2 linked regions of the Homo sapiens genome follow. The protein of the gene in region 1 purifies or fractionates together with the protein of each later gene. This does not show direct contact. Each region holds a gene or a part of one and is shown in the gene's direction. Other genes may lie near its edges.

Evidence for each region.
Region 2: the proteins of NPLOC4 (region 1) and ASPSCR1 purify together in Homo sapiens (affinity purification with mass spectrometry; 3 studies listed by BioGRID and IntAct, with this or other methods). This does not show direct contact.

The regions. Positions count from the first base shown.
Region 1 is NC_000017.11:81,564,109-81,571,130, reverse strand, and holds part of NPLOC4 (nuclear protein localization protein 4 homolog), read left to right. Parts: intron 1-2,019; coding exon 2,020-2,115; intron 2,116-3,597; coding exon 3,598-3,714; intron 3,715-4,528; exon of another isoform or gene 4,529-4,660; intron 4,661-5,523; coding exon 5,524-5,626; coding exon of another isoform or gene 5,627-5,811; exon of another isoform or gene 5,812-6,884; coding exon of another isoform or gene 6,885-6,931; exon of another isoform or gene 6,932-7,022. UniProt on the Homo sapiens protein: The ternary complex containing UFD1, VCP and NPLOC4 binds ubiquitinated proteins and is necessary for the export of misfolded proteins from the ER to the cytoplasm, where they are degraded by the proteasome.
Region 2 is NC_000017.11:82,008,621-82,015,642, forward strand, and holds part of ASPSCR1 (tether containing UBX domain for GLUT4), read left to right. Parts: intron 1-416; coding exon 417-571; intron 572-865; coding exon 866-947; intron 948-2,181; coding exon 2,182-2,248; intron 2,249-2,922; coding exon 2,923-2,985; intron 2,986-3,535; coding exon of another isoform or gene 3,536-3,610; coding exon 3,611-3,663; intron 3,664-6,454; coding exon of another isoform or gene 6,455-6,736; intron 6,737-7,022. UniProt on the Homo sapiens protein: Tethering protein that sequesters GLUT4-containing vesicles in the cytoplasm in the absence of insulin. Modulates the amount of GLUT4 that is available at the cell surface. Enhances VCP methylation catalyzed by VCPKMT.

The DNA.
Region 1 (7,022 bases):
TTCCAACTGACAGCTCCCGAGAACATATTTATTACCTAGGCCGTGAAGGCATCTGGTTTTTAGACTACCTAGGGTGTAATTAAGATGAAAACAGATTGATGGAGCATGCACCCAGGAGGAGCAGGCATGATTTAAAACCAGCTTTCTCAGGTCTTCTACCCCAAGCAGCCTCCCCACTTCTTTCCTCTTCTTTTATAAAGGAAGTTAAGTTTTTGCCTTAGTGCAGTTTTTCAGAAGTACTTGTTTGTGGGAGAGCATTCTGCTCTGTGATGCCCAGGCTCCTTGACCCTGTGGAAGTGAGGCATGGGGAGTCCTTGAGAGCAGGTGCCCAGAGAGGTGTGTCAAGCTCCATGCCCAGCCCTGGGCCACAGGCGCTGGCCTCAGCCAAGGTTCTTAAACCTTGGGATGGGATGGCTGGGCAGGCAGGAAAAGGCACCAGCCAGTGTTACTGGGGTTTCTTTGTGGGTTCTGGGGGCATCATCTGGCTGATAGACGATGGGTAGGGTAGGGAAATGGCTTCAGTGTAAGATGGGAGCTGATGCCCTTCCTTGGGACATCTGGGATGGGCTGTGTGGACTTTGGTTCTGTTCCCCTCCAAGGGCCAGTTACAAGGCCAGCAAGAGCCCCCGTCAGTCCCACTAGCTCACTCACTAGCACGTGTTCTGGGGGTGCCGCCTTCTTCATTTCTAGGCCTTCCCAAGGGACGCGCCTGAGCAGGCCAGGCTTTTGTCTCTGCAGGAGGTCAGCACCTCCCCTGTCTTCAGCTGGGACCCAGCACTGTGTGTACCAACACTATGTGTACCAGCCCCGTGCTGGGCACCCAGGAGGCGAGTACTCCGATCATCTTCATCCTGAGGAAGAGTAAAGTGAGGCCCAGGATCCCTAACTGACGAGGCCATGTAGCCGACACGTGGCACCGCGGCCCGAGTCTTCATGACCCACCCCGCCGCTTGCCCATGAAGGGCCAGCTCAGGCCAGAGATGCTGCTGGTGGCTCAGCTGTCCTTCCACAGCGGCTGGCGCTGGCACAGCAAATCCTGGGCCAGCTAGCTCAACAACTCACTGCCTTTGCTGATGCAGAAAACAGACCAGAACCACACTCATTCTTTAGAAATAGTCCCAAAGGAACCAGAATAGTTCCCCTAAATCTGGAAGAGGTGTGACCTCTGCTGCTGCTGTTGTGTTGCAGAGAAAAGCAGCATCAACTCAACTCGGTGCTGCTTTGGGGAGGGGTGTCTGTCACGAAGAATAAAAGTGGTATTTCTATTGATTCTTGCACATTTACCACTGTCCCTGTAGCATCTATTGATTATATCTTAGGTGCAAAGTGCCCTCTGTTGTCATTAAGGCCTGTCTGAGCCAGTGAAGGACTGAAGGACTTAGCTGGCCTTTGGGTATCAGCTCTGAGGGAGAGAGAAGAGCTGAACCCTGTGTTCCTCAAGGGCCTTACATTCACCCCTGCCTGGAAAAGCCCACAGCTCCGTGGAGTGGCTCCCAGCATTCAGAAGGGGCTTAGTGAGCTGCTGAAGGGTGCTTTGTGTCTTGAAAGCTGGCTGATTGCTCATTTGCCCTCCGAATCCAATGACACGAATCTCTCTTGAGCAAAGTCAGCTCCTGGGGCGGCCTCCTGGCCCTTCCGTTCCTTTCCTGTCACCTGGCCAAGGGGCCAAACCAGCCTTTCGTTCCTCCATAGCAGAGGGAGAGAACCTGTGTGACTCTGAAGGGAAGCTGTGCCACGAGGGGAGTCCCAGTGCCCTTTTTGTCCGACGTCGAGGCCGGTGCACAGGCCGGAGGCTGCCCGGATATGGTGTAGTTTGTCTCCAGGATGGCGGAGTTTCCAAGTGTTCGTTTAGAGATGACACTAATAGATAACGGTTCCCTTTGATGGAGAGCTTGTAGAACATTCTCAGAATTGCTAGGAGTCGTTAATTTGGGCTCTGGGAGATGCTCTGGGCTGGCTGGGAGTCGGCCACACCATTTTCAGCCTCATTTATCATGGGTTTGTGTTTTTCTTCATTAGATCACAACAACTTTCCCCAAGGATCCAGTTTACACTTTTTCTATTTCGCAAAATCCATTTCCTATTGAAAACCGGGATGTATTGGGTGAGACACAGGTGAGCTCTTTGTCTTTAGAAACATAATTTAAGGTAACTGCTGATTGTTATCTAGTGTCAGTATTGTTTTTCCAGAAAACATCAAGCTTTCAAATGCTCCCGATTCATTCTTGTGACAGGCCAGCTAGGGCCTACTGTGGGGCACTGCTGGTCACGTGGACGCCCTTCCCATGGCTAGGTGATGGACGGCCACAAAGGCTAATCCCCTGACGTCCTGACTGGCCACATCTTCAGTGGACCTCGTAATTTTCCCAAATGTGTTGCTTTGTGTCTTCTGCCAGCAGCCTCGTCACTGTTGGTTTGGCCTGGCCCCTGCCTGGTCACCTGCTGCCCTTCTTAGGCACCTTGGGGCTGTGTGGCCCCTCTCGGCCTGGCCTCGGCTTTCCCGTGTGTAGTGTTGATCTGCTGCTTAGCGTGGCTCCCGTGTTGGCCTCTGCTCTCACTGGCAGATCAGGCCAGGTCCGATTTGCTGTCACGCCTGCATACTGTGTAGACAGGCTGTGTACACATGGTTGTTCTTAAATCATAACTTGCTAACAGACATTTCAGAAGGTGGTCAAAGAATGTCTATAATGAGGTTTTCTTCAGTGGCTGACAAAGCTTCTTCTATGCTTTGATCCCCTCAGTGCCCATCCGCCCAGGGGACTTGGGGTGCTCACAGAGGTGCAAAGCCAGTTATTGGGGTGCACTCTTGAAGCTCTGTGTTTGGTTCTGCTGAAGATGTCCGTGCTGCATCACGGCTGCCCTGCACATTCCTCCCTCTTGCTGCCCTAGATGGAGAATACAGCTCGACAGGAAAAGTCAGACCTGTCTCCCTGCCGTGAAGGGGGCCCCAGGCCCCTCCCGCAGCCCACTCTCCACCGGGGGACCAGGGCGCATTTCCATGTTTGTGTCTCTGTCTGAGTCAGCCTTTTTTTTTTTTTTTTTTTTTTTTTGGAAGACAGAGTCTCACTCTATCACCCAGGCTGGAGTGCAGTGGTGCGATCTTGGCTCACTACAACCTCCACCTCCTGGGTTCAAGCGATTCTTCTGCTTCAGCCTCCTGAGTAGCTGGGATTATAGGTGCGCGCCACCAAGCCTGGGTAATTTTTTTTGTATTTTTAGTAGAGACGGGGTTTCGCCATGTTGGCCAGACTGGTCTCGAACTCCTGACCACCTGCCTGCCTCGGCCTCCTAAAAAGTGCTGGAATTACTGTGTTAGCCTCCACACCTGGCCAGTCTGAGTCAGCTTTATAAGCATGTCTCCTTGCACATCTGGGTAGTCAGGTGTGCTGAGAGCATCTTCTTGGGAGAAGAGAGCAAGAGCTTGCTTTGCAGCTGCCTGCTCCTCTTTCTTGGACCCTGTTCGTGGTTGCAGAGGCAGAGGGAGAGGTGTCTCAGCATTCAGTGTATTGAGTTGCGTCTTAGTAGGAAACAGCTCTGTTTCGGGGTCTGGCACTGGGGAACTGTATGGAACATTCATGTTTATTCCCATTCCTCTAGGACTTCCATAGCTTGGCCACCTATTTGTCTCAGAATACCTCATCTGTGTTCTTGGATACCATCTCAGATTTCCACCTCTTGCTGTTCCTGGTCACCAATGAAGTTATGCCTCTGCAGGTGCGTGTCCAAGTGTGGTGTCCACTTGAGCAAGTGGGCTTTGGCTGCAAAGAGACGCCTGTGTCTTGCTTTCTTTCCTCCCAGACCAGAGCATGATTGGGAAACTGGGTCAAAGCTCGGGGTCACAGGTTGTCCCCCTCATTTGTCCTATGGGCAGAGTGTAGGCAGCAGCTTTTCACAAGAAGCTTGTTGATAGAAAGATTAATTTTTTCACCTTTAGCATTTCCATTGAGTGTCTGCACCTCTGTGAGGAAGTACGGTTTCATCTGTTACAATCGAATGGGAAGCAGAGGTGATTTAGCTCTGCCTCCAGCATTAGAGTTAGACAGTTTAAAAAATTCCTGTTCTAACAGTTTCAGAGTCACAGCCTCTGCTTTTTACTCATATCTCCCCTCCTCCTAAATCAACTCTGGTTTTATTGCCTTGGCCCAGAAGGCTTGGCCAGCTTCCAGACCCCAAGCTCACAGCTGCACAGTTGGCATTTTTAAGAGACACCGTTGGGGGAGAAGAGGGCGAGTGCTTTGCAGAAGTGGCTGCTCTGGGTAGTGGGGGCCAGTGGGCAGCAGCCCCCAGGAGGTTCTTGCCGTGTGTAGGGGTCCGACTTTGGCTTTTTCTTCACTGTTCAAGCCAACAGGAAATGCCAAAGAGAAAGGAGCAAATTCTTTCTGAGCTGCTCCGCCACTGACTCAGAACTTTTCCCTGAAGGAGACAGAATAGAGAGGCTCCTCCTCCCCCGGCCTTTCTCTGTCAGGAAGCCTATAGCTGTTCTTGTATCCTGCTAGTTTATTTTGTGTCTGTATTTTGTCTCAAAACCACTCACTCGGGTATTTGACATCAGGCACCCTGTGCCTCTTCCCTGCCTGTGCCTTCCCTAGTCAGCCCAGGGAACTGCACCTCCTGCTCCGAGGTTCAGCTGCTGCCCATCTGTCTGGACAGGTGGTGAAAGGTGAGGCTCCCTCTACACCAGAGCCACCTTGCTAGTATACTGCACTATTTTTGCAGTCATCTGTTGGAAGACATTCTCTGGAGGTACTGAGAGCTCCTGAAGGCTTTATCCGTTTCTCATATATGAATTATTTTTTTTTAAGACGGAGTCTCGCTCTGTTGCCCAGACCGGAGTGCATTGGCGCAATCTTGGCTTACTGCAACCTCCGCCTTCTGGGTTCAAGCGATTCTCCCGCCTCAGCCTCCCGAGTAGCTGGGATTACAGGTGCCCGCAACCACGCCTGTCTAATTGTTGTATTTTTAGTAGAGACGGGGTTTCGCCACGTTTGCCAGGCTGGTCTCAAACTCCTGACCTCGTGATCTGTCTGCCTCTGCCTCTGAAAGTGTTGGGATTACAGGCGTGAGCCACTGCGCCCATCCTTAATGCATTAATCCCCTGCAGTTTGACTCGGAAGGCTAGGATAGAGAGTGCATTTTTCCAGACACGAGAGGAGAAAGAGGCAGAGGGATGAAATGTGAGGGAGGAGGACACGTCTCACAGTCAAGACTTCCGCCCTCCATCCCAGCCTCCAGGACGAGAGGCATGAGCTCCTATCCTCCGGGCTGTTGAGCACCGTCAGCACAAGGCAGAGGCACAGATGCCCGCTTGGGCCTATTTGGGAAGAATTTAAATTCTAGTTCAATTTAGCACTTGCGTTTATAGATGTAAGTTGTGGCAGTTTGCATTTTATAGTGATAGCCTGTAAGATTTTTAAAATGTCCTCAGAAATACGTCTTGATGTTGGGGAGAAAGAAACCTGTTCTAGCAGGAAGCTGCTCACCTTAGGCACAGCGAAGAGGAACCTTCCTTTTGGCTTCTTGTAGGACAGCATCAGCTTGCTGCTGGAGGCCGTGCGGACCAGAAATGAGGAGCTCGCCCAGACATGGAAGAGGTCTGAGCAGTGGGCCACCATCGAGCAGCTGTGCAGTGAGTACCCCCACCCCCTGCCCCGGCACCCCGTGGCTGGGGCCGGAGAGCAGCCCACTCTGCACAGCTCCCCACTGCCGGTGGTGCCCTGGATTCCGCACCCAGCTGCATCCTGGCAGGTGCCATCGGCAATGCAACGAGTAGAGACTCGGCCTCCCTGCCAGGCACGTGGCAGGCTCCGGTGATGGAGCAGACATGTTGTCCAGGCCGTACGTCTTAGGTACACAGCCCTGTAAATTTTATAAACCTGTACATCAGAGATACTAATCTCCAGGCATCCTAGGAGCACTTTGAACATCATTGTCTTAAGAGAATCAGAAACTTTATGGAAGCGCCGGAAGCGTGGGACCTTTTGGTCTCCTTGAGAATTTCCCTTTAGTGCTTAAAGCTGTAAGGAGGAGAAGCCTGCAGCATCCATGTTGTTGCTGGTGGACACTACGGAACGGACCGCAGGCATTGCGTGTCTTCCGGACCCTCAGTCACCAGGTCCTGAACGATTCCCCACTCGTGAGAACCTTCTGTCAGCATTGCTGCAGGGACTCCTCACGCACCGTGGTGCCTCGTGCAGCCCGAGTGCCCTGAGTCCCTGCAGCTGAGAGCACCAGAGTGCCCGGGAGCTACGGCCCTGGACAAATGCTAGAATCCTTCTGTTAACACAGCCTTCAAAAGACACATCAAACACCTTTATACCATTTCCTGTTTTTTTTTTTTTTTTTGAGACGGAGTTTGGCTCTTGTCACCCAGGCTGGAGTGTGGTGGCGTGATCTTGCCTCACTGCAACCTCCACCTCCTGGGTTCAAACGATTCTCCTGCCTCAGCCTCCTGAGTAGCTGGGACTACAGGCATGTGCCACCATGCCTGGATAATTTTTGTATTCTTAGTAGAGCCAGGGTTTCACCATGTTAGCCAGGCTGGTCTCGAACTCCTGACCTTGTGATCTGCTTGCCTCTGCCTCCCAGAGTGTTGGGATTACAGGTGTGAGCCACCACGCCCAGCCGAGGTTTTCTTTTCACACAATTCTTTGTTTATTATTTTTATTTTTGTAGAGACAGGGTCTCACTCTATTGCCGAGGCTGGAGTGCAGTTGCACAATCGTAACTCACTGCAGCCTCAAACTCCAGGCTCAAGTGATCTTTCTGCTTCAGCCTGCTGAGTAACTGGGACCACAGGCTTGCAACACCACACCCAGCTAATTCTTGGGGCTTTGTTGTTGCTTTTTATTTGTTTGTTTTTTAAAAATAATTTTAACTTATTTTAGATTCACAGGGTACATGTGCAGGTTTGTCACCTGGGTATATTGCCTGATGCTGAGGTTGGGGTATGATTGATCACATCACCCAGGTACTACACATAGTACCTAATAGTTTTTCAGCCCGCCCTGCTCTTTGTGTGTGTG
Region 2 (7,022 bases), 440 kb from region 1:
CCATGGAGCTGTGGCCAAGAGGGCAGCGGGGGCAGCTGGACTGGGGTTTTTGCCGACGCTCTAATTTGGCGGCTGTCGCCACCCCTCCCCCCCATGGAGACCCTGACGTGGCCTGAGCCAGACTCCAGGGGCCATGTGCCCTGCTGGGGAGCAGGGGCTCAGCATCAGGTCTGGTGCACTGACTGGGAGAGGGGGGTCTCCAGCCCTGGACAGGCTCTGAGTGGGGTGGGGTCCCCCAGCTGCTGTGCCCAGCCCTGCCCCCAGGACCTGGCCTTGGCCCTGCGCTGGCCGGGGCCAGGGAGGGAGTGGGCCCAGCTCCCAAGTCTGTGTGACCACCTCGGCTGGGGCACTGACAGCCCGGGGTGCGGAGGGCCCAGCCCGTGACACCCGCCGTCAGCCGCGCCCTCTGCCTCCAGCCCGTGGACCGGGAGCCCGTGGACCGGGAGCCGGTGGTGTGCCACCCCGACCTGGAGGAGCGGCTGCAGGCCTGGCCAGCGGAGCTGCCTGATGAGTTCTTTGAGCTGACGGTGGACGACGTGAGAAGACGCTTGGCCCAGCTCAAGAGTGAGCGGTGGGTGCCCCCTCAGTGCCTCCCGGCATCTTCGCGCCAGGGTTTGCCCCATCGGGTGCTTGTGCTGCCCGCTGTCCCCAGTGCCAGCACTGGCTCCCGGCCCAGGTCCCTGACAGGCTGCCCTTAACAGGACCTCAGAGGGTTGGGGCCCAGGGAGGGGCGTCCAGACCTTCCTGCCTTGTGTGGGGAGAGCAGCCCACTCCCACCCTGGAGGGTGCAGGTGAGGAGCCCGGGGCCTGTTGCCAGGGCCCCCATTCTGACCAGAAGCCCTGTTCCTTCCCCTCCTCACCACAGGAAGCGCCTGGAAGAAGCCCCCTTGGTGACCAAGGCCTTCAGGGAGGCGCAGATAAAGGAGAAGCTGGAGCGCTACCCAAAGGTCTGCAGACAGGATGTGGGGGCGACTGAGGCACAGCTCTGAGGGGGCCCCCCGTGAGGTCTGTGGACGGGATGGGGCGACTGAGGCACAGCTCTGAGCGGGCCCCCTGTGAGGTCTGTGGACAGGACGTGGTGGCGACTGAGGCACAGCTCTGAGCGGGCCCCCTGTGAGGTCTGTGGATGGGACGTGGGGGCGACTGAGGTACAGCTCTGAGGGGGCCCCCTGTGAGGTCTGTGGATGGGACGTGGGGGCGACTGAGGCACAGCTCTGAGCAGGGCCCCCCCGTGGTGGCGCGCATGCCCTTAGTGGCCAGTTGATCCTCCCCTGCTCATGATTTAGAATGAAACCTTTTTTTTTTTTTGAGACGGAGTCTCTCTCTGTCGCCCAGGCTGGAGTCAGTGGTGCCATCTCAGCTCACTGCAAGCTCCGCCTCCCGGGTTCAAGTGGTTCTCCTGCCTCAGCCTCCCAAGTAGCTGGGATTTCAGGTACCCGCTACCACTAGCTCGGCTAATTTTTGTTGTTTTTTTTTTTTTTACTAGAGATGGAGTTTTACCATGTTGGCCCGGCTGGTCTCGAACTCCTGACCTCAGGTGATCTGCCCGCCTCGGCCTCCCAAAGTTCTGGGATTACAGGCTTGAGCCACCACACCTGGCTGAATGAAACTTTAAACAGCACATTTGAGCCGGGCGTGGTGGCTCACGCCTGTAATCCCAGCACTTTGGGAGGCCAAGGTGGGCGGATCATGAGGTCAGGAGATCGAGACCATCCTGGCTGACACGGTGAAACCCCATCTCTACTAAAAATACAAAAAATTAGTCAGGAGAGGTGGCGCACGCCTGTAGTCCCAGCTGCTCGGGAGGCTGAGGCAGGAGAAAGGCGTGAACCCGGGAGGTGGAGCTTACAGTGAGCCGAGATCATGCCACTGCACTCCAGCCTGGGCGACAGAGTGAGACTCCATCTCAAAAAAAAAAAAAAAAAAAAAAAACCAGCACATTTGAACCCAGGTCAGTGTGGTTTTAGAACGCAGGCCGCTGTGCACACACACGGCACTTGGCTGTCTCCATGCCCAGCCTGCCACGGGGGAGTCAAAGCCCAGGCCCTGATTGGGGGTGGCTGCTTCTGCCTGCCTCAGCCCTGGTGTCCATGGCCCAGCATGGGCCGAGTGGGGAGGCCACGCCCTGGTCCCTGGTGCAGCTCCGGCCGTCCCTCCAACCCTTCCACTTGTCTGGCCTAGGTGGCTCTGAGGGTCCTGTTCCCCGACCGCTACGTCCTACAGGGCTTCTTCCGCCCCAGCGAGACAGGTGGGCAGCGCTGTGGGGTGTCCGGGGATGGGGGGCAGGGGCCCATGGGGCCTCTCCCGGCTCCTTCCTTCCAGGCCACAGGACTGCAGCCACCTGGCCTGCGGGCTCCAGGGCACTGGGTGGGTGCGGGTGCTGATGTCCCCTTGGGGGTGCAGAGGCATCCCAGTTCGCAGAGTGTCAGGCAGGCTGGGCGCTTGCTCCAGGTGCCCGGCCCCAGCTCAGGGAGCCCGTGGTCCTGAGTGCTCACGTCGCCCACCTACTGGGCATGGGTGGGGCAGAGGGGCACCCAGAGGAAGGCACCCTACCCCGGGAGGAGGGCAGTGGTGCTGTGACATTCAGGGGCTTGTGACCTGTACCCAGACGGCCGGGCGGCAGCAGCCCAAGGTCACAGGGGCCTCCCCCAGGGAAAGGGAAGCGCTTAGGCTGGGGCGGGGGTGGGGCTGGGGGGCAGCGGGTGGCAGTGGGAGTGCTCTCCAGCAGGGCGGGGGTCCCAAGTGTGGCCCGCACGGTGGCCCAGCCACGCCGAGCACCTGGAGTGCTGTGGGAGGAACAGGGCTGAATTCCCACCCCTCGGGGAAAGGCCCAGGAGGGTGGGAGCAGTGGCCCAGGTGCTGGGGCAGCCCGGGGCTGGCGTGGTGGAAGAGCTGTCTGTATGTTCTTTTTCTCCTCTGCAGTGGGGGACTTGCGAGACTTCGTGAGGAGCCACCTGGGGAACCCCGAGCTGTCATTTTACCTGTGTACGTTTTTTCTCCTGAGCCCACTCCTGCCTCCAGTGCTCGGGGCCTTGGTGCTGTGGGCACACCGCCCGTCCCAGCTGGGGCTCGTGGCAGCTTCTCCACAGGAGCAGCATCTGTGGCCTCCCGCCCAGGTGCCTCCTGCAGCCCATGGTGTCTGTGTGGAGACCTAGGAGGGCCCTTCTCCCCGAGCCAGGCGGTGGGAGCCAGGCTTCCTGCCTTCTCTCTCAGCGCCCTGCTCCCCTCTGGAGCCCTGCTGCACCCCAGCCTGGTCCCCACCCCTGGGGCTCAGGCCACTCCTGCCCGAGGGCTGTGGGAAGGGTGGGTGGACAGGGAGTGGCTGGCCTCCCTTGGAGGGTGTCTAGGTGGCAAAGGGTTAGGCTGCCCACTGCAAGGGGAGCCGGGCTGCACGGGTGGTGTCCCCTGCAGGTGGGCCTGCCCCCCACCGGCCCTTCCGAGCCCTCAGCTGGAGTTTCTGCAGCAGGAGTGTGGGCACAGGGCGTGCTCGTGAGGGGCTCTTCTGCCCCACTTGAGGCGTCACCCCCATCTGCAGGCCTGTCTTCCTTCGGGCGCATGGATGGGCGAGGTCCACGGTGCTTCCTAACACGTAGGTGCCTTCTCTCCTCAGTCATCACCCCTCCAAAAACAGTCCTGGACGACCACACGCAGACCCTCTTTCAGGTACCTGAGGGCCTCCCTGGGGTGCTGCGGGGCGGGGCCCTCCAGGGAGGGCAGGACGAGAGCGTGAGGCCTCGGGCAGGAAGGAGGGGCCTGGCAGGCGCTGGGGCAGGATAATAAAGCCTTTGAGAGCCGGTGGGTTCCGAGGGGGCCGTGCGCCTCTGAAGTTGCTTCTGACACGGCTTTCCGGCCTCCTCTGCTTCCTGCCTGGCCCCGGGTGGGAAAGGACCTGCTAGGCGGCCTGCCTGAACTGAGGCCGCTTGGAGGTCTCGGCCCCCCTGGGCTGCTGTGCTGGGGCCAAGGCGGCAGCAGTCCCTGCCCAGGGGTCTGGGTGAGGAAGGGCCCGGCAGGCCTCGGAGCAGGGCTCAGGGAGCCCCAGAGGGACCAGGCCCTCAGCTGGAGGCGGCCGCCTTGGGCTTCAGCTGCCCCTTCCCCCTGCCCGGCCTCTCCCGCTGGCCCCCCGGTCCCTGCTAGGAACGCCCTGGTGCCCATAGCTGTCCGCTGCTTCTGTGGGTCCCTGCCACCTCCCTGAGGGCTCCTGAGGGTGGGGCCAGGGTGAGGGTGCCGGGTTCCCAGCCCTGCTGGGCCGCCCTCCAGAGCCAGAAGCAATGAATGTCCTGTCCTTGGCCTGTGGGAGAGCTGCCTGGGGCCTTCCGAAGCCCTCTGGCCTAATGGTTTCCTCTTCAAAGCCTCTTCAGATATTTTAATTAGCCACAGAGGCGGGTTTTTTTTTAAGTGGCCACAGGCCTCTACAGAGGCCTGGGTTGGAGGTGAGAAGCTTGCTCACTGCCTGGGGCTGCAGCCGCTTACTGAGCTGGGGCAAGAAGGCTGGCAGCTGCCAGGGGTGATCAGGAGCAGGACTGAGCGGGATTCCCTGCAGCGGAGGCAGGGGAGGGGTGAGACAGTCCCCTCTCAGCCCCCGAGCTGCCGGGCGGACTCCGGGCCTCCTTCCTCCGTCTCCATCCCCTCCCTTGCTGGCCAGCCAGTTGATAAACATTGAATTTGGAAGATGCCTTGGGATGGAGGAGGACCAGTGCCCAGGCCTGCAGCCCACCCTCCCGCTGGGAGGCCCCTGAGAGCACTGGGGTGCTGCTGCCCTGTTTCTGGGGACGCTTGGCTTCCCTACCAGCCACCGTCTCCTGCCCTCCATCAGCTCGGCTCTAGCCTCGGGGCCTCTCGGGGTGGTGTCCCCGGTGACGTGCCTGCCTGCCTGCCTGCCGTCAGAGAGCTGGCGGGGCTGAGGGAAGGAAGCCTGCCTCCCTGGCAGGCAAGCAGGCGGCGGGCGCGGAAGCACCAGCTTTCACGTCTCTGGCAGAGCCCCACTCCGGCTGCCTGCTGCCTGGGGGATGTCCAGGGGCCGGCCCCCGGCTTCCGAGAGGGACAGCGTGCGTGGGTGTGGGGGCTCCGGTAGCCCGGCAGCCCTCTGTGGCCCTGGCCCAGGAGAGTGCAGGTTTTCTGGGAGGGCTGGGAGGAGGCGGCCAGGAGTGAGGACAGGGAATTGTGAGCAGTGTGGGGGCACCACTGTGGGGAACAAAGCCCCCCGCCCCTGCCTGAAACCTGCGTCCTGGCCCTGGGCATCAGGGCTGGCCCTGCCCTGGTGTCCTCACACAGTCACTTCTGTGTGCGGTCCGCGTCCTCAGGTCATGAGGAAGGTCACCCTGGGCTAGGCCCACCTTTGATGTCACGGTCACCTCACTTATCTCTTCAAAGGCTCTGCTGTTTGGGCTTCCTTCCATTGGCTTTGGCAGGGCAAGCCTGGCTCCTAACACCCTCCGTTTGTTGGAGCTCTCAGGCTGCCTCTGGGGACCGTCTGCCAGGACACAGGCCACCCTTGCTGCCTGGTTCCCCACTCCCCAAGCCACTCACCTGGCAGGGCGTGACTGGCACTTCTGGCCTGAGTGCCTGCTGGGCGCCCGCCCCTAGCCAGTTCTGTCGTCCTTCCTTTCCACCCAGGACAGCCCCGTCCTGCACTGCCGTGTCGCCCACTGCCGGGGCCTCTCTGGGACCAACAGGCCCCCTTCCTTCCACCCACCAGGCCCTACCCCACCTGGACCCTCTGAAATGTTCCTCGTTGACAAATGGTCTTGCAGAAGGCAGGATGGCTCCTGCAGCCCCCACTCCCGCTCTGTGGGTGGATGCCCCGTCTCTCCCTGCCCAGGCACCGTGGTGCCTTCTCTCTCCCGGGCACCGTGGTGCCACCTCCCTCCCAGACACCATGATGCTGCCTCCCTCCCGGGCTCTGTGGTGCCATCTCCCTGCCGAGGCACTGTGGTGCCGCCTTCCTCCCGGGCACGGTGGTGCCGCCTCCCTCCCAGGCGCTGTGGTGCCGCCTCCCTCCCGGGCGTCTTGAGCTGCAAGGGCTCCTCTCTTGGCTTCGTTCCCCGGAGGGTGGTGCTGTTCTCGTTGGAGGGGGCGGCCAGGCGCTGGGCCACGTGTGCATGCAGCCCCTACAGAGTTGCTGCCCCGTGGGGGTTGACGTGGGCCTCCTTTCGGAAGCTCTTCCTGGCAACACTGAGTGGGGCAAGGGGTTGGCAGCAGAGAGGCGGCTGGATTTGGGGCCCCAGTGTCCTGGGCGGCAGCTAGGGAGGGGCCGGCTCCAGGCCCTCAGGCTGTGTCAGGGCAGGGCGGGCACCCCCACTTCTCCCTGTCAGCCGAGGGAGCCAGGCAGGGGCAGCCTGAGACATCCTGGGACAGTGCTGGTGGGGAGAGGCCCCTCAGCCTGTGCCTCCCTCAAAGGCCCTTCCCGGGCCCTGCTCTGGCTGGGGGGACGGTGTGACCCACTTTCCCTTTCCAGCCCCAGCTTGGTGACCGGGTGGCTCCATTCACCCTGGGTCCCTCGCTGAAACGGTGCCTGGGACCAGAGCAGAGAACACGCTTGCCAGTGGTAGGAGATGGAGGCGACGTGGACTCTGGGAGGCTTCTTTTTTGGGGTCCATCCAGAGGCCGAGCCTCTCCAAGCACTGGTCAGCCTCCATGCCACCCAGTCTGCCGACCCTCCTCTCCACCATCCCCTCGTCCGAGCAGTGGCGATCCCTCCCGAGTCAAGGCTGGGCACAAGCACGTGGGGACAGGCCGGGTAGGCTGCCTGGCTCAGTGCTCCCTGCACAGAGGCGCAGACAGGGAGCCCAGGTGCCCCAGGCCTGGCTGCCAAGCCTACTTCCCTCTCCTGGTGTTCCCGAGTCCTGCCCGCCCCTTTCTGTGCGTCCCGTGGGGCAGTGCTGGTTGGGGGTCCTGGCCTGTGGGGGCTATGATGAGAACCAGGTGCCTCTCTGCATCGGTGGCCTCTGAGGGAGCCCTCTCGCCCGGCAGCAGGTGGGATGCAGATGGGGCTGGCCAGGGCTCCTGTGCCCACAGCAGCCTCT